Linked DNA regions of Homo sapiens: region 1 is linked to region 2. Evidence: fine-mapped expression QTL. A gene starts in region 2. The other region holds a variant in brackets. All regions are shown on one strand. Distances are between the middles of the regions. Region 1 holds the start of EPS8L1 (EPS8 signaling adaptor L1). Region 2 holds the start of PPP1R12C (protein phosphatase 1 regulatory subunit 12C).

Evidence for each region. PIP is the estimated chance that this variant, and not a neighbour inherited with it, causes the effect.
Region 1: its variant is fine-mapped to the expression of PPP1R12C in prefrontal cortex (GTEx, PIP 0.95).

The regions. Positions count from the first base shown.
Region 1 is chr19:55,068,939-55,079,718 of GRCh38, forward strand. EPS8L1 (EPS8 signaling adaptor L1) reads left to right here and starts at 6,931. Exons shown (of 20, transcript NM_133180.3): 1 at 6,931-6,981; 2 at 7,470-7,523; 3 at 9,150-9,190; 4 at 10,061-10,119; 5 at 10,752-10,780. The coding sequence starts at 7,507. It also overlaps a transcript of RDH13 not described here. RefSeq lists an enhancer at 7,385-8,110. The variant T/A (reference allele first, on the strand shown) is at 5,785.
Region 2 is chr19:55,113,261-55,123,348 of GRCh38, forward strand. PPP1R12C (protein phosphatase 1 regulatory subunit 12C) reads right to left here and starts at 4,377. Exons shown (of 22, transcript NM_017607.4): 1 at 3,963-4,377. The coding sequence starts at 4,283. It overlaps MIR7975 (microRNA 7975), which reads right to left and starts at 10,032; the gene lies at 9,965-10,032. RefSeq lists enhancers at 1-56, 1-594, 595-1,221, 2,773-3,608, 2,963-3,012 and 3 more and silencers at 3,923-4,022, 4,043-4,122, 4,313-4,392.

The sequences.
Region 1 (10,780 bases), 44 kb before region 2:
GAAGGAAGGGGAGGGGAGGGGAGGGGAAGGGAGGGAAGAAAGGCAGGCCCTGATGTTCAGGGAGCTGAGAGTGAAGTCACCGGCTCCAACCCAGGATCCAAACTCAAGTCTGTCTGGGGTCCTATCCCCGTCACCACCCCCCGCCCCGACCCATCCCCCAGAGACCTGGGAAGGAGCCAGGCTCCTCCGGTTTCAGGAAAGGGCTGCACAAACCACCCCGCCACGATCCCTCCCAGAGAACAAACAGCTCCCGGCCACCGGCAGTCTCCCTCCTCCTCCTGCCAGGCTGGTTCCCAGACCCACCCTCCCTGTGTCATAAGCGCCTCTCCCCGCACTCTCACCAGGGCTGGCTGTTCTCAGAGGAACGCCCAGGAAAAACCTACCCGAACCCCTTTCAGCTGGGAAGGGGACCCGCCTGGGCTTCCTCACCGCCGATGAGACCTCCCTCGTCGTACACTTAGAGCTGCCTGTGTTTTCCTTCCTTCCTTAAGCGGGCTGGGAACTCTAGACACTCAGGGATGGGCCAGCCCATTAGAGTAAGCATTCGGCCACCTCTAGGCTGCTACGGTCACTGCTGCTGTCACCATCAACGTGACTGTCTCACACCTCACTTCCTCCGGCCAGCCACACCCCTGCAGATTTAACCCGCCAGCCTCCCTAAGGTTTCCTCTGCCTGAAATCCTCTCTGCATTCCTGGCTCATTCTCGAAATTGAGGTCAAAGCTCAGATGCCGCCTCCTTCCCTGACCACCCTACCTGAAGCAGCCGCACCTGCCTGCTCCTAGTCACGCCGTTCCTTCACCTGTTTCGTTTCCTCCACAGGGTTTACCACAATCTGAAAGTCTTATTCATGCAGGTGTCTACTTGTTTATCTCCCCACCACACCTACTAGGATGACAATATCACAAGGGCTGGGGTTTCATCTGTCTCCTCCTCCTCTGTATCTCCAGCACATGAAACATGCTTGGCACACTGTAGGTGCTTAAGTATTTGCTACTACATCACTTTGGGATTTTGCATAGGACACTCCCAATGCTTAGAATGTCAATCTTTGCTTCATTGTCCTTGGCAAACTCCTATTCATCCTTTGAAACCCCATCCATTTATCCCTTAACCAGGAAAGGCTTCTGTGCCTCATACAACCACCCATAAAGCTGGATTAGGGCTTTCTCTGGGGACACCCTTGCCCTGTGCCACACTTCCATTAGCGCACATATCCCCCATGAATTGTGCACACCAGCAGGGTCTAGAGTACGGCACACATTTTGTCTCAGGAGCTACGTATTGAATAAATAAATTAATTACTTTTTTTGAGACAAGGTCTTGCTCTGTCACCCAGGCTGGAGTGCAGTGGTGCAATCGTGGCTCACTGTACCTTGACCTCCCAGGTTCAAGCAATCCTCCCACCTCAGCCTCCCAAGCAGCTAGGACCACAGATGCAGGCCACTATGCCTGGCTAATTTTTAATTTTTTTTTTGGTAGGGATGGAATCTCCCTATGTTGCCCAGGCTGGTTTCAAACTCCTAGGCTCAAGGGATCCTCCTGCCTCTGCTTCCCAAAGTACTGGGACTATAGGTGTGAGACGCCACACTCAGCCTCATTATTTAATATGTAAGTAGCTATATCTCTCTGAGACCCAGCCCCATCTAATTTATAACCTCCCTCCTTCTCAAGAACATGCCTCAGCTCCCATTGCCAGGGAATCTGACCTTTCTCCTTGTCATAGGATTTTTTTTTTTTTTTGAGTCAGAATCTCAGTCAGTCACCCAGCCTGGAGTGCATGGCGCAATGGCTCGCTGCAACCTCTGCCTCCCGGGTTCAAGTGATTCTCCTGCCTCAGTCTCCCTAGTAGCTGGGACTACAAGCGCACGCCACCACACCCAGCTACTTTTGTAGAGATGGGGTTTCACCATGTTGGCTAAGCTGGTCTCGAACTCCTGATCTCAAGTGATGGCCTCCCAAAATGCTGGGTAACAGGTGTGAGGCACCACATCCGGCTGTCATAGGAATTTGTCAGCAAATCCTACAGACTAGAGGATGTGTGTTGGGTGGTGTGGGGGTGGGGATAACGGAGGAGATGGGGGGTGAGCTCTTCAAGCCCCAGGGGAGAATTCTGTTCCGTTCCTGGGACATCCCAGGTGAGAGGGAAGAAAGGCCAGCCCCCCAAGACAGCTATCCCAGACTGGGACAGAGGCAAACCCTGACCACAGAGCCCTGTCACTCACCCAAGAACAGGTGCCAATGACAGAATAGCCAGGCCGAGGGGGGAGAGAGGTGCTTCGGTGATGGATTTCCCTGGTGACTTGCCAAGACAGGGCTTTACTGCCTCCGCCCTGGACTGGCTGAGTCAGACTGTGCAGGGGTGGACACTTTGACTGGTATTTGGGAGGCATTTGCTGTGGGTTACAGAGAGGGAGGGGCCTCCTTTGCGGCCAGAGAAGGAGGAAAGAGGCCCTGGGCCCTGGGACTTGGGACTTGGGTGGAGGCTCGGGTTTCGGTCTCACCTGCTGCTCCAGACCATGGCCTGGAGGGCCGCCTGCGCCACCCCCAAAGCAATGAGATAGCCCCTCCTCCCTCAGACCCAGGAGTCCAGGCCCCCAGCCCCTCCTCCCTCAGACCCAAGAGTCCAGACCCCAGCCCCTCCTCCCTCAGACCCAAAGGCCTCGGACCCATACCAAATGCTTCTATGAGATAGTTTTCTCCCCTTGTTCATGAAGAAATGAGCCCAGGCCCAGTCAGATCTGCATCTGTGTCACAGCCCAGGGCCACTGTAACCTTAGGCTACTGACTTCCCTCTCTGAGCCTCTGTTTTCTCCTGTCAATGGGGCAAGGGGTCTGCTCCTTCCCTCAAACCCCAACTCAGGTACAGTCAAGCACAGAAAATACTTGTGGCATGAATGTGATGAGAACACAGAATTGCAGAAGCCAAAGAAAGAGAAGCGTAAGGGCCCTCCTTCCACCCCTACCTCCCCCACCCGCTGCTACACGCACCAGGACCACCTGCTGGGTAGCCAGGAGCTCACAGTCTAGCCCCGCTGGCCACCCCTGCAGCCCCCATCCTTCACTCAGGCAGTTGCAGGGCCCAGAACACCCCTATCTTCTAGGATTGACACTGGCTGTCAAACTCATCCTTCAAGGTGATTCCTGGCCTGCCCTCCTCCTCCAGGCAGCCTGTCCTCCTCCTCCAGGCAGCCTGTCCTGACCCTCAGCAGCCTCTCCTGGCCTTGGCAGAGCCCCTCGTGTCCTCCCTTGCAGCACGCATGGGAAGAAAGGCCATCGTCCTCGCCATTGCTAACACCAGCCTTGCGTTTCCTCTTTGCCAGGTACTGTATTGACAACTCTCTATAACCTGACTTTATCCTCCCAATAAGCTGGGTGTGGTGGGTGGCTCATGCCTGTCATCCCAGCACTTCGGGAGGATAAGGCAGGAGTATCACATGAGCCCAGGAGTTGGAGACCAGCCTGGGCAACATAAGGAGACTCTACTATATATATGTGTATATATATTTATATATAGTCTGAGATGGGAGGATCACCCCAGTAGGTCGAGACTGCAGTGAGCTGTGATTATGACACTGCATTCTAGCCTGGGCCACAGAACTAGACCTTGTCTCAATTAAGAAAAAAAATGGGGATAATAGGACCCATTCCATAGGATGTGGTGAGGATTATGCATACACACACACACACACACACACACACATTTATGATGTACTGAGAAGATATAAGCACACAATAAGTATCTCCAAAATTATCAAGTGGCAAAGCCAGGATTCAGACCCACACCTGCCCGAGGCTCTCTGCCATCAGACCACACTATATCTCTTTCTCTCTGTTCCTTCATCCCCATCAATCGAAGGCAAAAATGTGCCTTCTCTGATTTCCAGGCTCACTCAGCATAGACCGTGGAGGCAACATATCTTGAATGAAGCAACAAAGCAGTAATGCACATGAATGCACCAAATGCCAAAAGCTCGTTTACTCAACAAGTATCTCTCCAACACTTTCTATGTGCTAGACCCAATTCTGTGTGCTGCAGATTAAGTGGAGGACTGATCACACAAAAATCTTTGCCCTTGTGAAGCTTGCATTTTTTTTTTTTTTTTTTTGAGATGGAGTCTTGCTCTGTCACCCAGGCTGGAGTGCAGTGGAGCAATCTTGGCTCACTGCAATCTCCACCTCCCGGGTTCACGCCATTCTCCTGCCTCAGCCTCCGGAGTAGGTGGGACTACAGGCACCCACCACCAAGCCTGGTTAATTGTTTTGTATTTTTAGTAGAGACGGGGTTTCACCATGTTAGCCAGGATGGTCTCAATCTCCTGACCTCGTGATCCACACGCCTCGGCCTCCCAAAGTGCTGGGATTACAGGCGTGAGCCACCACACCCGGCCGCTTTTTTTTTTTTTAAGATGGAGTCTCGCTCTGTCACCCAGGCTGGAGTGCAGTGGCACGATCATCTCGGTTCACTGCAACCTCCACCTCCCAGGTTCAAGTGACTCTCTTGCCTTGGTCTCCCAAGAAGCTGGGATTACAGGTGTGCACCACCAACTCTGGCTAATTTTTTTTTTTTTAGTAGAAATGGGGTTTTATCATGTTGGTGACATGGTGTGATCTCGGCTGACTGCAACCTCCACCTCCGGGGTTCAAGCAATTTTCTTGTCTCAGCCTCCCAAGAAGCTGGGATTACAGGTGTACACCACCACCCCCGGCTAATTTTCATATTTTCAGTAGAGACGTGCTTTCACCATGTTGGCCAGGTTGGTCTCGAACTCCCAACCTCAAGTGATCAATCCGCCTCAGCCTCCCAAAGTGCTGGGATTACAGGCATGTGCCACCGTGCCCAGCCTGTGAAGCTTGCATTCTAACGGAGGAGACACAGACAAAATGAACCAGGAACACAGTGGGTAAGAAGGTGAAAAGTTCTCCACACAAAAATGAAGTAGGGAGAGAGGAAAGAGACTACAAAGAAGTTGGGTTGCCGGGGGCGGTGGCTCACACCCATAATCCCAGCACTTTGGGAGGCCGAGGCGGGCAGATCACGAGGTCAAGAGATCGAGACCATCCTGGCCAACATGGTGAAATGCTGTCTCTACTAAAAGTACAAAATTAGCCGGGCGTGGTGGCGCGCGCCTGTAGTCCCAGCTACTCAGGAGGCTGAGGCAGGAGAATCACTTGAACCTGGGGGGGCGGAGGTTGCGGTGAGCCAAGATTGCGCCACTGCACTCCAGCCTGGGCAACAAGAGTGAAACTCTGTCTCAAAAAAAACAAAAGAAGTCGAGTAAGGGATGCCGCCATTTGAAACAGGGTGGTCAGCCAGTCCTCTGAGAAGGTGACATTCAGGCAAAGATCAAAGGAGGCAAGAAAGTGAGGCATGAGGGTATCTGGTAGAAGAGCATTCCAGGCAGAGGAAACAGCAAGTGCAAAGGCCCTGAGGCAGGACCGGGTCTGGATGTTCCAAGAGCAGCAAGGAGGCCAGTGTGCTGACACACAGAAGGAAGAGATGAGATCAGAATCACGTCCCTTAAGGCCTTGCAAGATGTCAGCTTTTTTTTTTTCTTCTTTTTTGAGACAGAGTCTCGCTCTGTCGCCCAGGCTGGAGTGCAATGGCGCAATCTCGGCTCACTGCAAGCTCCGCCTTCCAGGTTCACGCCATTCTCCTGCCTCAGCCTCCCGAGTAGCTGGGACTACAGGTGCCCACCACCACGCCCGGCTAATTGTTTGTATTTTTAGTAGAGACGGGGTTTCACCGTGTTAGCCAGGATGGTCTCGATCTCCTGACCTCGTG[T/A]TCCACCCGCCTCGGCCTCCCAAAGTGCTGGGATTACAGGTGTGAGCCACTGCGCCCGGCCTGTTTTCTGTTTTTTGAGATGGAGCCTCGCTCTCTTGCCTAGGCTGGAGTGCAGTGGTGCAATTATCGGCTCGCCGCAACCTCTGCCTCCCGGGTTCAAGTGATTTTCCTGCCTCAGCCTCCTGAGTAGCTGGGATTACAGGCACCCGCCACCACACCTGGATAATTTTTGTGTTTTTAGTACAGATGGGGTTTCACCATGTTGGCTGGGCTGGTCTCGAACTCCTGTCCTCAGGTGATCTGCCTGCCTCGGCCTCCCAAAGTGCTGGGATTAGAGATGTGAGCCACTGTACCCATGCAAGTTTCTTAACCCTTCTCTTCCTCATTTTCTCATCTGTGAGACGAAGACAGCCTCCCACCCAGACACACTCCCCTCACGGGGCTCTGGGGAGAAATGATGTGGAAAGCTTTGCTAGTAACCTCTACAGCATGGAGGGAGTTCTGGAAAAGTGATTTCAGAAAGGTGTTTATGCCTGGAAAGCCTGTTCATTTTTGTGATGTCCTTGGAGCTGGGCCAGGCATTATCGAGCTAAATCTTAGCTTTTGTCAGAATAGGGGGGTCATTGAGGGAAATTTCCAAAGGAAGGTGGAACGGGATGGGTGGGGAGGTAAGGGCATGAGCAGAGGCAGTGATCGTGGGCAGGAGGTGTCCATAGAAGACGGGCTGCCACTGGCCCTGGAGACAGAAGGTCAGCCCCGGGTTCAAATCCCTCCTTAACCAAGTGCTGAAATGGACAAGTTGCTCAACCTCTCTGGCCTTCAGCTTCCTCATCTGTCAAGCAGGAATCAAACCTCGAACTTCCTCCCGCTGTTAGAATTTCAAGGGAGTTTTAAAGACAGAGCTTTCAACTCTGACCTGTGAACAAGTGTGACATCAAATGTACTGTTCGTTGCTATTATTCTGTTGCTACAAGGCAGACAGTTAGTTTCCCAGCTCCCCTGCAGTCCCCCCAGCCCCTCCTAGATCTGTCTGCCAGCCCCGCCCCGGGGTCACTCCAGCCAGGCTGTGCCAGGTGAATGCTCAGGTATGCGGAGGCGGAGGCGGAGGCAGGACGGCCCTGGGAGGGAGCAGGAGGAGGGGCCGGCAGCCTGGAAGGGAAAGGACAGCGGAGAGCAGGGCAGAGCCTGAGCAGGCAGGTAAGGAGATCCGGGTCAGGAGAGAAGGGGGCCGGGGCTTGACCAATGGGTCTGAGGGACGGGGGGACTGGGGTCTGGACTCCAGGGTCTCAGGGAGGACGGGCTGGGGGTCTGAACTCCCGGGTCTGAGGGAGGAGGGCCTGGGGTCCTGGACTCCTAGGTCTGAGGGAGGAGGGGCTGAGGGCCTGGACTCCTGGGTCTGAGGGAGGAGGAGATGGGGCCTGGACTCCTGGGTCTGAGGGAGGAGTGGACTGGGGTCTGGACTCCTGGGTCTGAGGGAGGAGGGGACTGGGGTCTGGACTCCTGGGTCTAGGGAAGAGGGACTGGGGCCTGGACTTCTGGGTCTGAGGGAGGAGGGGCTGGGGGCCTGGACTCCTGGGCCTGAGGGAGGAGGGGCTGGGGCCTGGATGCCTGCATTGAGGGAGGAGGCTGGGGTAGGAATTAGAGGCTCCTACTGGCCAGGCCTTCACATGTTTGCTGGCTCCCAGGGCACCTCCAGGTGGGCAGGAGCTACCACTCAGCACCATGAGCACCGCCACAGGGTAAGCGCCCCCGGACCCCAGGTCCCAGCCCCAGCACGCCTCCCGCCTCCCCTCGCCTCCTCACCCACACCCGCTTGCGGCAGCCCAGACTGTTTGCGGCGGCCCAGACTCTGGCCCAAGCCCCGACACTCAGGAGGAAGCCAGAGCCTCTCTCCTCCCTGCCCAGCCTGGGGTTAGGGGCCCCCACTGCAGAGCAGACAGGCCTGAGCTCCAGTTCGGCCCTCACACTCAGTGCTGATGTAACCCTGGTCAGAGGACATCACCTCCTGGAGCCTCAGCCCCTCCTCTGTGACACAGGGACAATGTTGAAAAATTGGAGGGATAGTGCATTACAGGACTTAGCTGACCACCTCACTGACAGCAGGTGCTCAACTCATAGGAGTCGCTATTGCGATTGTTATGTTGTTAGTAAATATTAACCCTTTGCTAGAAAATCAGGGCTGTTTATAATGAAGACTCAAGTCCCCCAGAGTAAGCAGGGAGAAAAACAATGAGAGATGAGTCAAAATACCTGCATGGTAGGTAGTGAGCTCTCTGGCCCAGAGGTAATCAAATTGTGGTGACATCAGACTGGCAGGAGCAGGATGAGGAACAGGAGTTTGGGAAAAAGGGTTTTTCAGTTCCCCTGACGCCACCTGATCGCTGAGCTTCTGTTATGTGCATGCAAGTGGGGATTCAAGAATTCTTAGGAAAGGTAATCTTAGGAAGAAATTGAGGACGGGAGGAGACAGAGAAGGATGTGGTTGGGAAGCACCTGGCCCATGGGAGTGGGAGGGGAAGCAGATAATTCCCTGTCTACTTCAGATACCACTAATGCTATTATAACCATTCCCATTTATTGAGCAACTTCTGTGTGCTAAGCCCTGGCAGCATCTTAAGAATGATAATAACAGTTATTGAGGCTTCAAAATACTTCACCTGCATCATCTGACTGAATTTGCCCAACAGCCCTACCAGATGGTTACTACGTTACAGAAAGAAAAACTGAGGCAGGAGAGATTAAATCCTCTTCTGAAGGTCTTATGGCAAGGAGGCAGTAGACAGAGGGTTTGAATCCCGGACTATGCCATGGTAGAGATCACACTCCCCTACCACCCAGCACCACCGCCTGACCTGACCTGTCTTTTTTTTTTTTTTTTTTTTTTTGAGATGGAGTCTCACTCTGCTGCCAGGCTGGAGTGCAGTGGCACGATCTGGACTCACTGCAACCTCCGCCTCCCAGGTTCAAGTGATTCTCCTGCCTCAGCCTCCCACGTAGCTGGCACTACAGGCGCCCACCACCACACCCAGCTAATTTTTGTATTTTTAGTAGAGACAGGGTTTCACCATGTTGGCCAAGATGGTCTCAATCTCTTGACTTTGTGATCCGCCCACCTCTGCCTCCCAAAGTGCTGGGATTACAGGCGTGAGCCACCGCGCCCAGCCTACCTGTCTTCTTAAAGTCCAGCTCTGGCTCTGAGCTCTCCTGCTCAATAATAATAATAATAATAATAATAATAATAATAATAATAACCCTTCCATCGCTCCCCATTACCTTCGTCATGAAGCCCTTGCTGCCCTGCTTGGCATTTCCACAGGATCTGCCCCCAGTCCCACAGTCTCTCTCATTCCTCTTTTCTTCACCAGCCCAGAAGCTGCCCCAAAGCCAAGCGCCAAGTCTATCTATGGTGAGCGGGGGGCAAGGGAGCCCCAGGCCCATAGAACTGGGTCTAAAGAAACAGGACCTGGCATCCAGGGTCTTGGAGGAGGAGGGGCTGGGGGTCTGGACTCCTGAGTCAGAGGGAAGAGGTGCTGGGGGTCTGGACTCCTGGGTCAGAGGGAAGAGGGGCTGGGGGGCTGGACTCCTAGGTTTGAGGGAGGAGGGGCTGGGGGCCTGGACTCCTGAGTCAGAGGGAAGAGGTGCTGGGGGCCTGGACTCCTGGGTCAGAGGGAAGAGGGGCTGGGGGGCTGGACTCCTGGGTCAGAGGGAAGAGGGGCTGGGGGGCTGGACTCCTGGGTCAGAGGGAAGAGGGGCTGGGGGGCTGGACTCCTGGGTCAGAGGGAAGAGGGGCTGGGGGGCTGGACTCCTGGGTCAGAGGGAAGAGGGGCTGGGGGGCTGGACTCCTGGGTCAGAGGGAAGAGGGGCTGGGGGTCTGGACTCCTGAGTCAGAGGGAAGAGGGGCTGGGGGGCTGGACTCCTGGGTCAGAGGGAAGAGGGGCTGGGGGCCTGGACTCCTGGGTCAGAGGGAAGAGGGGCTGGGGGCCTGGACTCCTGGGTCAGAGGGAAGAGGGGCTGGGGGTCTGGACTCCTGGGTCAGAGGGAGGAGGGGCTGGGGGGCTGGACTCCTGGGTCAGAGGGAAGAGGGGCTGGGGGCCTGGACTCCTGGGTTTGAGGGAGGAGGGGCTGGGGGCCTGGACTCCTGGGTCAGAGGGAAGAGGGGCTGGGGGGCTGGACTCCTAGGTTTGAGGGAGGAGGGGCTGGGGGCCTGGACTCCTGGGTCTGATGGAGGAGGGGCTGGGCCTGGACTCCCAGGCTCATTCTCTTTCTCCCCTGGCAGAGCAGAGGAAGCGTTACTCCACAGTTGTTATGGCTGATGTATCCCAGTACCCAGTCAATGTGAGTCTGGGGTCTGTGTTCCCCCAGGACATCTTCTGGGGCAAAGGTGGCCTCAGGAGATAGGGCTTTTGAAAGCAGCTAGGCCCCCAAGCAGGAAGCATGTGGAAAGTCAGTTTGCCCATCCATAAAATGGACCTCCGTTGCCTCACCTCAGTCATGGATATGAAGCCAGGGGCCTCGGGTCCACTTAATCTGCCAGCCTTTCCTCCAGGCCAGCTGTTGTGCTGGACAGTGGGACCACGGAGGCAAATCAAGACACAGCCCTGCATGAGGAAGGGGTAGACAAGGTCCAGAGGAATCCACAGAGGCGCCTGGTGCTCTAATGGAGGTGGCAGGGGGCATGGCAGGAGACCCGAGGAGGCATTTAGAAGGAGAGAGCTATAATCCAGACTCCTTCCCTGCCCGCAAGGAGCCTCCAGTCTGTGAGAAGCCAGACTCAGGTGCTAGTCACTCTGATGAAAGGGAAACAAAGGGCACTGGGAGGAGGAGCTGATTTGTGGAACAGGTGATCAAGGAAGGCTTCCTGGAGGAGGTGTGGTTAGTCTCAGGCTGAAAGTCTGATTATTCTGGGGGATTCTGAGCCCACCTGGCATCATCTTGGGCCTCACTGCTTTCTCCATGGTCCGTACCAGCACCTGGTGACGTTCTGCCTGGGTGAGGA
Region 2 (10,088 bases):
CACCCCAGCAGATACTCTGCAGGAACGAAGCCGTGGGCCCAGGGCTATGCAGGGTGGAGGAAGGCCACCCTGTGCTGGGACAGACTCAGGGGCCTGGGCGGGACTCCCAGAGGGGTGAGACAGCTGCACACCTGTGTGCCTGGGCCCCAGGCTGTCACACTCCAGTTCACTGAGGCCCCCTCTGCACGGGGCCCTGCAGCCAGGGGCTGACACGGGCCACCGTTTCTCATTCTTCCCTTAGGGGTCCAAAACTTGGGGGGACAAAAGCCGAAGTCCAGGGGGTCGGAGGAGGGACTTGCCCCAGGCCTTGTGGACACTGGGTGGGCTCCGGGACCTGAACTGGAGCTGAGGAAGGAGTGAAGCTAAACTCCTAGATCCACGGGATAAATTACCCCCCAAGTCCCTCACCTCTCCAAAGCTGCCCATCTGGAGGAGGCGGGAGGGAGCTACGAGGGCCAAGAGCATGAGGTCATGGAAACTCGGGCTGTGAAGGGGCCGCACGTGCCCTGGGAACGGGATGAACTCGGCTCGTTTATTTCCACCCAGTTGTCATGGCGATAGGGGAGGGGGGCAAGGAGAGCAATGGGCCTTTCCCTTTCAAGGACCTGCCCAGTACAGGCATCCCTGTGAAAGATGCCTGAGGCCTGGGCACCAGGGACTCCAGAGTCCAGGCCCAACCCCTCCCCATTCAACCCAGGAGGCCAGGCCCCAGCCCTTCCGCCCTCAGATGAAGGAGTCCAGGCCCCCAGCCTCTCCCCATTCAGACCCAGGGGTCCAGGCCCAGCCCCGCCTCCCTAAGACCCAGAAGTCCAGGCCCCCAGCCCCTCCTCCCTCAGACCCACGAGTCCAGGCCCCAGCCCCTCCTCCCTCGGACCCAGGAGTCCAGGCCCCCAGTCCCTCCACCCTCAGACCCAGGAGTCCAGGCCCCAGCCCCTCCTCCCTCGGACCCAGGAGTCCAGGCCCCAGCCCCTCCTCTCTCAAACCCAGGAGCCCAGGCCCCCAGCTCTTCTCTGTTCAGCCCTAAGAATCCTGGCTCCAGCCCCTCCTACTCTAGCCCCCAACCCCCTAGCCACTAAGGCAATTGGGGTGCAGGAATGGGGGCAGGGTACCAGCCTCACCAAGTGGTTGATAAACCCACGTGGGGTACCCTAAGAACTTGGGAACAGCCACAGCAGGGGGGCGATGCTTGGGGACCTGCCTGGAGAAGGATGCAGGACGAGAAACACAGCCCCAGGTGGAGAAACTGGCCGGGAATCAAGAGTCACCCAGAGACAGTGACCAACCATCCCTGTTTTCCTAGGACTGAGGGTTTCAGTGCTAAAACTAGGCTGTCCTGGGCAAACAGCATAAGCTGGTCACCCCACACCCAGACCTGACCCAAACCCAGCTCCCCTGCTTCTTGGCCACGTAACCTGAGAAGGGAATCCCTCCTCTCTGAACCCCAGCCCACCCCAATGCTCCAGGCCTCCTGGGATACCCCGAAGAGTGAGTTTGCCAAGCAGTCACCCCACAGTTGGAGGAGAATCCACCCAAAAGGCAGCCTGGTAGACAGGGCTGGGGTGGCCTCTCGTGGGGTCCAGGCCAAGTAGGTGGCCTGGGGCCTCTGGGGGATGCAGGGGAAGGGGGATGCAGGGGAACGGGGATGCAGGGGAACGGGGCTCAGTCTGAAGAGCAGAGCCAGGAACCCCTGTAGGGAAGGGGCAGGAGAGCCAGGGGCATGAGATGGTGGACGAGGAAGGGGGACAGGGAAGCCTGAGCGCCTCTCCTGGGCTTGCCAAGGACTCAAACCCAGAAGCCCAGAGCAGGGCCTTAGGGAAGCGGGACCCTGCTCTGGGCGGAGGAATATGTCCCAGATAGCACTGGGGACTCTTTAAGGAAAGAAGGATGGAGAAAGAGAAAGGGAGTAGAGGCGGCCACGACCTGGTGAACACCTAGGACGCACCATTCTCACAAAGGGAGTTTTCCACACGGACACCCCCCTCCTCACCACAGCCCTGCCAGGACGGGGCTGGCTACTGGCCTTATCTCACAGGTAAAACTGACGCACGGAGGAACAATATAAATTGGGGACTAGAAAGGTGAAGAGCCAAAGTTAGAACTCAGGACCAACTTATTCTGATTTTGTTTTTCCAAACTGCTTCTCCTCTTGGGAAGTGTAAGGAAGCTGCAGCACCAGGATCAGTGAAACGCACCAGACGGCCGCGTCAGAGCAGCTCAGGTTCTGGGAGAGGGTAGCGCAGGGTGGCCACTGAGAACCGGGCAGGTCACGCATCCCCCCCTTCCCTCCCACCCCCTGCCAAGCTCTCCCTCCCAGGATCCTCTCTGGCTCCATCGTAAGCAAACCTTAGAGGTTCTGGCAAGGAGAGAGATGGCTCCAGGAAATGGGGGTGTGTCACCAGATAAGGAATCTGCCTAACAGGAGGTGGGGGTTAGACCCAATATCAGGAGACTAGGAAGGAGGAGGCCTAAGGATGGGGCTTTTCTGTCACCAATCCTGTCCCTAGTGGCCCCACTGTGGGGTGGAGGGGACAGATAAAAGTACCCAGAACCAGAGCCACATTAACCGGCCCTGGGAATATAAGGTGGTCCCAGCTCGGGGACACAGGATCCCTGGAGGCAGCAAACATGCTGTCCTGAAGTGGACATAGGGGCCCGGGTTGGAGGAAGAAGACTAGCTGAGCTCTCGGACCCCTGGAAGATGCCATGACAGGGGGCTGGAAGAGCTAGCACAGACTAGAGAGGTAAGGGGGGTAGGGGAGCTGCCCAAATGAAAGGAGTGAGAGGTGACCCGAATCCACAGGAGAACGGGGTGTCCAGGCAAAGAAAGCAAGAGGATGGAGAGGTGGCTAAAGCCAGGGAGACGGGGTACTTTGGGGTTGTCCAGAAAAACGGTGATGATGCAGGCCTACAAGAAGGGGAGGCGGGACGCAAGGGAGACATCCGTCGGAGAAGGCCATCCTAAGAAACGAGAGATGGCACAGGCCCCAGAAGGAGAAGGAAAAGGGAACCCAGCGAGTGAAGACGGCATGGGGTTGGGTGAGGGAGGAGAGATGCCCGGAGAGGACCCAGACACGGGGAGGATCCGCTCAGAGGACATCACGTGGTGCAGCGCCGAGAAGGAAGTGCTCCGGAAAGAGCATCCTTGGGCAGCAACACAGCAGAGAGCAAGGGGAAGAGGGAGTGGAGGAAGACGGAACCTGAAGGAGGCGGCAGGGAAGGATCTGGGCCAGCCGTAGAGGTGACCCAGGCCACAAGCTGCAGACAGAAAGCGGCACAGGCCCAGGGGAGAGAATGCAGGTCAGAGAAAGCAGGACCTGCCTGGGAAGGGGAAACAGTGGGCCAGAGGCGGCGCAGAAGCCAGTAGAGCTCAAAGTGGTCCGGACTCAGGAGAGAGACGGCAGCGTTAGAGGGCAGAGTTCCGGCGGCACAGCAAGGGCACTCGGGGGCGAGAGGAGGGCAGCGCAAAGTGACAATGGCCAGGGCCAGGCAGATAGACCAGACTGAGCTATGGGAGCTGGCTCAGGTTCAGGAGAGGGCAGGGCAGGGAAGGAGACAAAGTCCAGGACCGGCTGGAGGGGCTCAACATCGGAAGAGGGGAAGTCGAGGGAGGGATGGTAAGGAGGACTGCATGGGTCAGCACAGGCTGCCAAAGCCAGGGCCAGTTAAAGCGACTCCAATGCGGAAGAGAGTAGGTCGAAGGGGAATGGTAAGGAGGCCTGGGGCAGAGTGGTCAGCACAGAGTGGCTAAGCCCAGGGCCAGTTGAAGCGGCTCCAATTCGGAAGTGGGGTGGTCGAAGGGGAATGGTAAGGGGGACTGGGACGGGGTGTCAGCATAGGGTGGCAAAGCCCAGGGCCAGGAACGACGGGGCGGATCGAGACTGGCAACGGGGAAGGAGGATGCCCCAGGTGGCGCAGCAGAGGGTGGACCTGGCCCCGGGAGACGCCGGGCGGGGGGCGCTGACCTGGTGCAGGGCGCTGATACCGTCGGCGTTGGTGGAGTCCAGCACGGCGCGGGCGGGCGGCGGCGCGGCGGGGTCGAGCTCGGCGCCGGGGCCAGGGTCGGCGGCGCGCAGCATCAGACGCGCCTCGTCCAGGTCGCCGCCCGCACAGGCCGCCAGGAACTCGGCGGCGCGCTCGAAGCGGACGGTGCGGGCGCGGCGCTCTCCGGGGCCAGGCTCGGCGCCCGCCCGCGCCCCCCACTGCCGCAGCTGCTCCCGTCGCCGCTCCCGGGCAGCCGCCGCCGCCGCCCCCGGGCCAGCCGCCGGGCCATCCTCTCCGGACATCGCACCGCCCGCCCGCCCAGCGAGCGAGCGAGCGCCGAGCCCCAACCGCCGCCACCACCCGCCCGCCCGCCCGCCCCGGGGGCCGCCGGGAACTGCCGCTGGCCCCCCACCGCCCCAAGGATCTCCCGGTCCCCGCCCGGCGTGCTGACGTCACGGCGCTGCCCCAGGGTGTGCTGGGCAGGTCGCGGGGAGCGCTGGGAAATGGAGTCCATTAGCAGAAGTGGCCCTTGGCCACTTCCAGGAGTCGCTGTGCCCCGATGCACACTGGGAAGTCCGCAGCTCCGAGGCGCCCAGTGGAAATCGCCAGATGAGGGCCTCCTCCGGGGAATGCTGGGAAATGGAGTCTACAGGCCGGAGGGGTGCCCCACGGCATACTAGGAAGTGTGTAGCACCGGGTAAAGGGGATGAATAGCAGACTGCCCCGGGGCAGTTAGGAATTCGACTGGACAGCCGCGTGGGAGGGAGTGCGGGGAGAGGCAGAGTTGTTTTGTTATTGTTGTTTTATTTTGTTTTCTTTGTTTTGAGACGGAGTCTCGCTCTGTCGCCACGCTGGAGTTCAGTGGCGCGATATCGGCTCGCTGCAACCTCCGCTTCCCAGGTTCAAGCAATTCTGGCTCAGTCCCCAGAGTAGCTGGGATAACAGGCGCGCGCCACCCCGCCCTGCTAATTTTTATATTTTTAGTAGAGACGGGATTTCACCATGTTGGCCATGATGGTCTTGATCTCTTGACCTCATGATCCGCCCGCCTCGGCCTGTAATCCTGCTGGGATGACGAGCGTAAGCCACCATGCCCAGCTGGGTTTTATTTATTTTGGTTTTTTTCCTGACCCCTTAACTAGAAATAAGCTCCACGAGAGCGGGATCTTTTGTCTTCTGTGCACTACTTGTCCTCGGTTCTTAGAACAGAACCTGAGAGAACCTGATCGCAAATATTTTTGGAATGAATGAATGAATGGGTTCACCAGGGCACCATGGGAAACTGAGTCCGCAACCTAGAAGCCATGAAAGACAGTCCACTTCCAAGCTTCCCTGGGTGACCTCGCAGGGCATGCTGGGAAATGAAATTTGCGGTGAAAAGGTCAGGACCACGATCCTAGGGCACGCTGGGAAATGTAGCCCACAGGGCCACACCCCTAAAAGCACAGTGGGGTGCAAGGCAGGGCCCCAAGGCATTTAGGGCTCGGGGCAAGAGAAATCCACACTCCACTCCCTAATGGTAATCCCTGAGCCACACCGAGTAAAGGAACCCAAGACACAGTGTCCACAGGGACAGGGCTCTCAGAGCTTTCACTGGCCCGCGCTTCTCCTGCGCCCACCCGGACCTCCTGGGAACCGCCCAGGCCCTCGCGCGCTCTCAAGGCATGCTGGGATTGGTGGTCCCGGGCAAGGAGTTCCAGCAGGTGGGGGGCGAATCACCTTTCAGCGGGCCCAAGCGATGAGCACACCTTGATCTTCACCTTACGGATCCCGCGCCCAACTCAAGATTGGGAAGGTGGCTGGCACTTTGTGACAGGAAGAGTCCCATAAAAATCATACAGAAAAGGGCCAAAATCGGGACAGAGACTACAGACTGTTTCCCAAGCGCTGTGGGAGTTTCCCACCCACTCTGAAGTCCTTGGGTTTGCGCGGAGACGTAAACTGCGCATCCCACGAGGCCTGTTTCTTTCCCTCTCTCTTTCTCTTTTGTTGTTGTTGTTGCTGCTGCTGTTACGAAAATTTTTGTGGTTTTATTGTATCATGAGGCATTGAAACATCCGGCGACTCAATGTCTAGGCGGTGAGGCAGCCGCTTTCTCCTTCACTTTCTTTGGGTTAAGTAGAGCAACTTGTCAGTAGTTTTGTTTTTTTTTGTTGTTGTTGTTGTTTTTGAGACGGAGGCTTGCTCTGTCGCCCAGGCTGGAGTGCAGTGGCGCGATGTCGGCTCACTGCAAGCTCTGCCTCCCGGGTTCAAGCGATTCTCCTGCCTCAGCCTCCTGAGTAGCTGGGACTACAGGCGTGCTCCACCACGCCCGGCTAATTTTTGTTTTTTAGTAGAGACGGGGTTTCACCATGTTGGCCAGGCTGGTCTCGAATTCCTGACCTCGTGATCCGACTGCCTCGGCCTCCCAAAATGCTGGGATTACAGGCGTGAGCCGCCGCGACCGGCCAGATTTTTTTTTTTTTTAAAGGACAACCTTTTGCATTACTTAAGTCTTTCCAAGGCATGCGCTGGTACAACACAAACTTTTCCCATTACATGCAGCTAGTCTAGTGTCCAGACGTCATGCACAACACCTCCGTGGCATCAGCGCACTGCGCCCACTCCCACTGCGACCCTGCTCATTTGTGCATCATATCTGGAGGAGTGGCAATAGTTCTGGAAAGAGGAGGGAAGAGGAGGCAGCGTGAGGGCCCGGTGGAGAGGAGGTCAGCTGAAGTTGTGCAGAGCAAGCCTGCATATCATTGGTGCAAACCCAAGCATCATTGCATCGCTGATGTTTTGTTTTGTTTGGTTTTGTTTTGTTTTTGAGACGGAGTCTCACTGTGTCGCCCAGGCTGGAGTGCAGTGATGTGATCTCGGCTCACTGCAACCTCCGCCTCCCAGGTTCAAGTGATTCTCCTACCTCAGCCTCCCAAGTAGCTGGGATTACAGGCGTGCTCCACGCCTGGCTAATTTTTGTATTTTTAGTAGAGACAAGGTTTCACCATGTTGGCCAGGCTGGTCTCGATCTCCTGACCTCAAGTGATCCACCCGCCTCAGCTTCCCAAAGTGCTGGGATTACAGGCATGAGCCACCACACCCAGCTGATGTTCTTTAGTAGGAATATCTGGTGGAACCCCAAGATGGGGTCTTCATCCGCCACGAAGCCTGTTTCTATAGAAAGGGATAGTTCTGGTGGCTCTTAGGTGTGGTCCCTGAACCCCACACTTTCCACATACTTACACACCAACCTCCTTCCCCCAGGAAAACAAGAAGTCGGTCTTCAGGGTGTTACCGTGTAGCTCTGGTTCTGTATGTATTCTGTGCCTTTATGTATAATTGTGTGTATTTGCAATCATGTCTGTGGCTGGATGTATGTTGTTTATGAGTTTGTGTTTATGGTTTGTTTTTGTTTGTTTGTTTGTTTGTTTTGAGATGGAGTTTCACTCTTGTCATCGCCCAGGCTGGATTGCACTGGCGCAATCAAAAAAGAGTAAAATAACAGAAATCAGAATGGGCTTATAATACTCTTACCCCTCTCCACACAGGACAGAAGAGTCAATTTTATACTTTTGTGGATGTTCTAACTTCACCTGCTTATCTGAACCATCTTTATGGTGCAGACTAATATCTATTTTTCTGCTGTTACAGAAGAAGTGGGAACATTTTCTTCTTATCTTTCTGAGGTTATTTACACCAGTGAGGAGGGCCTGCAGTTCCAAGGTTAAGCACCAACATTCCACTGTTACCATTGAGAGCAAAGAGCAGACCCTAGAAGTGAAAACAAAACCTTTACCACAGGAAGACAAGAGCAAAAGATGATGTTCTTGAGTGGCATATGAAGATGCTCACAGCCAACATCACATGCCTATCAGATATTTTATGTACATCATCTCATCAACTCCAGGAGGCAGAGACTAAGAGACTAGCCCCAGTCACAGAGCTAGAAATTGGCCAAGACAAGGTTCAATCTGAGGACTGTCAAATCCAGAACTGGAATTTCTTTTTTTTTTTTTTTTTTTTGAGATGGAGTCTCGCTCTGTCACCCAGGCTGGAGTGCAGCGGCATGATCTCAGCTCACTGCAACCTCCACCTCTTGGGTTCAAGCGATTCTCTTGGGACTACAGGTGCACGCCACCACGCCTGGCTAATTCTTGTATTTTTAGTAGAGACGGGGTTTCACCATGTTGGCCAGGATAGTCTCAAACTCCTGACCTCATGATCTGCCCGCCTTGGCCTCCCAAAGTGCTGGGATTACAGGCATGAGCCACTGCACCTGGCCTTAGAAGCCTCAGTTCCTGATGGCAGTTGGGATCTGCCTTTCCTTCCCTGGACTGCCTACCTCTTGTCTTTTAGGTTACATATGAGAAAACAAACCTCCAATTCACCAAAACTATTGTTATTTGGGGAGCTGTCTCTTACTATCAGCCAAACATAACTCCTCAATGACACTGTTAGTTTAGCACTGCCATTATAATCAGGAGGGATCTGGGTCCAGCTGCGGGAACATGAAGAGGCACTAGTGGGATGACCACAGCCAGCCCCTGTTGATTCACCAGGAGACTGCAGATGCATGAGCAAGTCCAGCCAAGATCAGCCAGACAAGAACTCCCAGCGGAGCCCAGCCCAATTTGCCAACTCTCAAACTATAATTTTTTTTTTTTTTTTTGAGACGGAGTCTCGCTCTGTCTCCCAGGCTGGAGTGCAGTGGCGCGATCTCCCCTCACTGCAAGTTCCACCTCCTGGGTTCACGCCATTCTCCTGCCTCAGCCTCCCGAGTAGCTGGGACTACAGACGCCTGCCACCACACCTGGCTAATTTTTTTGTATTTTTAGTAGAGATGGGGTTTCACTGTGTTAGCCAGGATGGTCTCAATCTCCTGACCTCATGATCCGCCCGCCTTGGCCTCCCAAAGTGCTGGGATTACAGGCATGAGCCACCGCGCCCAGCCCTCAAACCATAAGTTAAATAGATGACTGTTGACTCAAGCCACTAATATTTGGGGTAACTTTTTTCTTTTTTCTTTGCTTTTTTTTTTTGAGACCAAGTCCCACTCTGTCATCCAGGCTGGAATGCAGTGGCATGACCTCGGCTCACTGCAACCTCCACCTCTGAGGGTCAAGTGATTCTCCTGCCTCAGCCTCCTAAGTAACTGGAATTACAGGCACCAGCCACCATGCCTGGCTACTTTTTGTGTGTTTTCAGTAGAGATGGGGTTTCACTATGCTGACCAGGCTGGTCTTGAACTCCTGGCCTCAAGTGATCCACCCGCCTCAGCCTCCCAAAGTGCTGGGATTACAGGCAGGGGTGAGCCACTGCGCCCACCTGGGGTAACTTTTTATGCCACAAAAGCAAACTGATGCAAGGCATTCCAAGAGGCCTTTGAGCCTCTTGCAAGTCAAGCTGATTGCAAGACACTCTGCCTTTGATAAAATGTAGTGGACAGAGAAGCAGTGGTTTCAGTGGCAGAGATGACAAATTGTTGCCCAATATTCGTTGTCCCCTTCTTTCTCAACAAAATGGAACCTCTGATTATGCTGGGTTTAGCATAGCCATCTAGAATAATGGTTACATATCCCAGTGTCGGGCCTCCGAGCCCAAGCTAAGCCATCATATCCCCTGTGGGCCTGCACATATACATGAAGATGGCCTGAAGCAACTGAAGATCCAAAAAAGAAGCGAAAATAGTCTTACCTGATGACATTCTACCATTGTGATTTGTTCCCGCCCCACCCTAACTGATACGATATATTCTGCCTGGTCCTTAAGAAGGTACTTTGTAATATTCTCCCCCGCCTTTAAGAAGGTACTTTGTAATATTCTCCCTGCCCTTGAGAATGTACTTTGTACGCCCATCCCAAACCTATAAGAACTAATGATAATCCCACCTTTGCTGACTCTGTTTTCGGACTCAGCCCACCTGCACCCAGGTGAAATAAATAGCCTTTTTGCTCACACAAAGCCTGTTTGGTGGTCTCTTCACACGGACGTGCGTGACATTTGGTGCCGTGACTAGGATCAGGGGACCTCCCTTGGGAGATAAATCCCCTGTCCTCCTGCTCTTTGCACCGTGAGAAGGATCCACCTATGACCTCGGGTCCTCAGACCAACCAGTCCAAGGAATA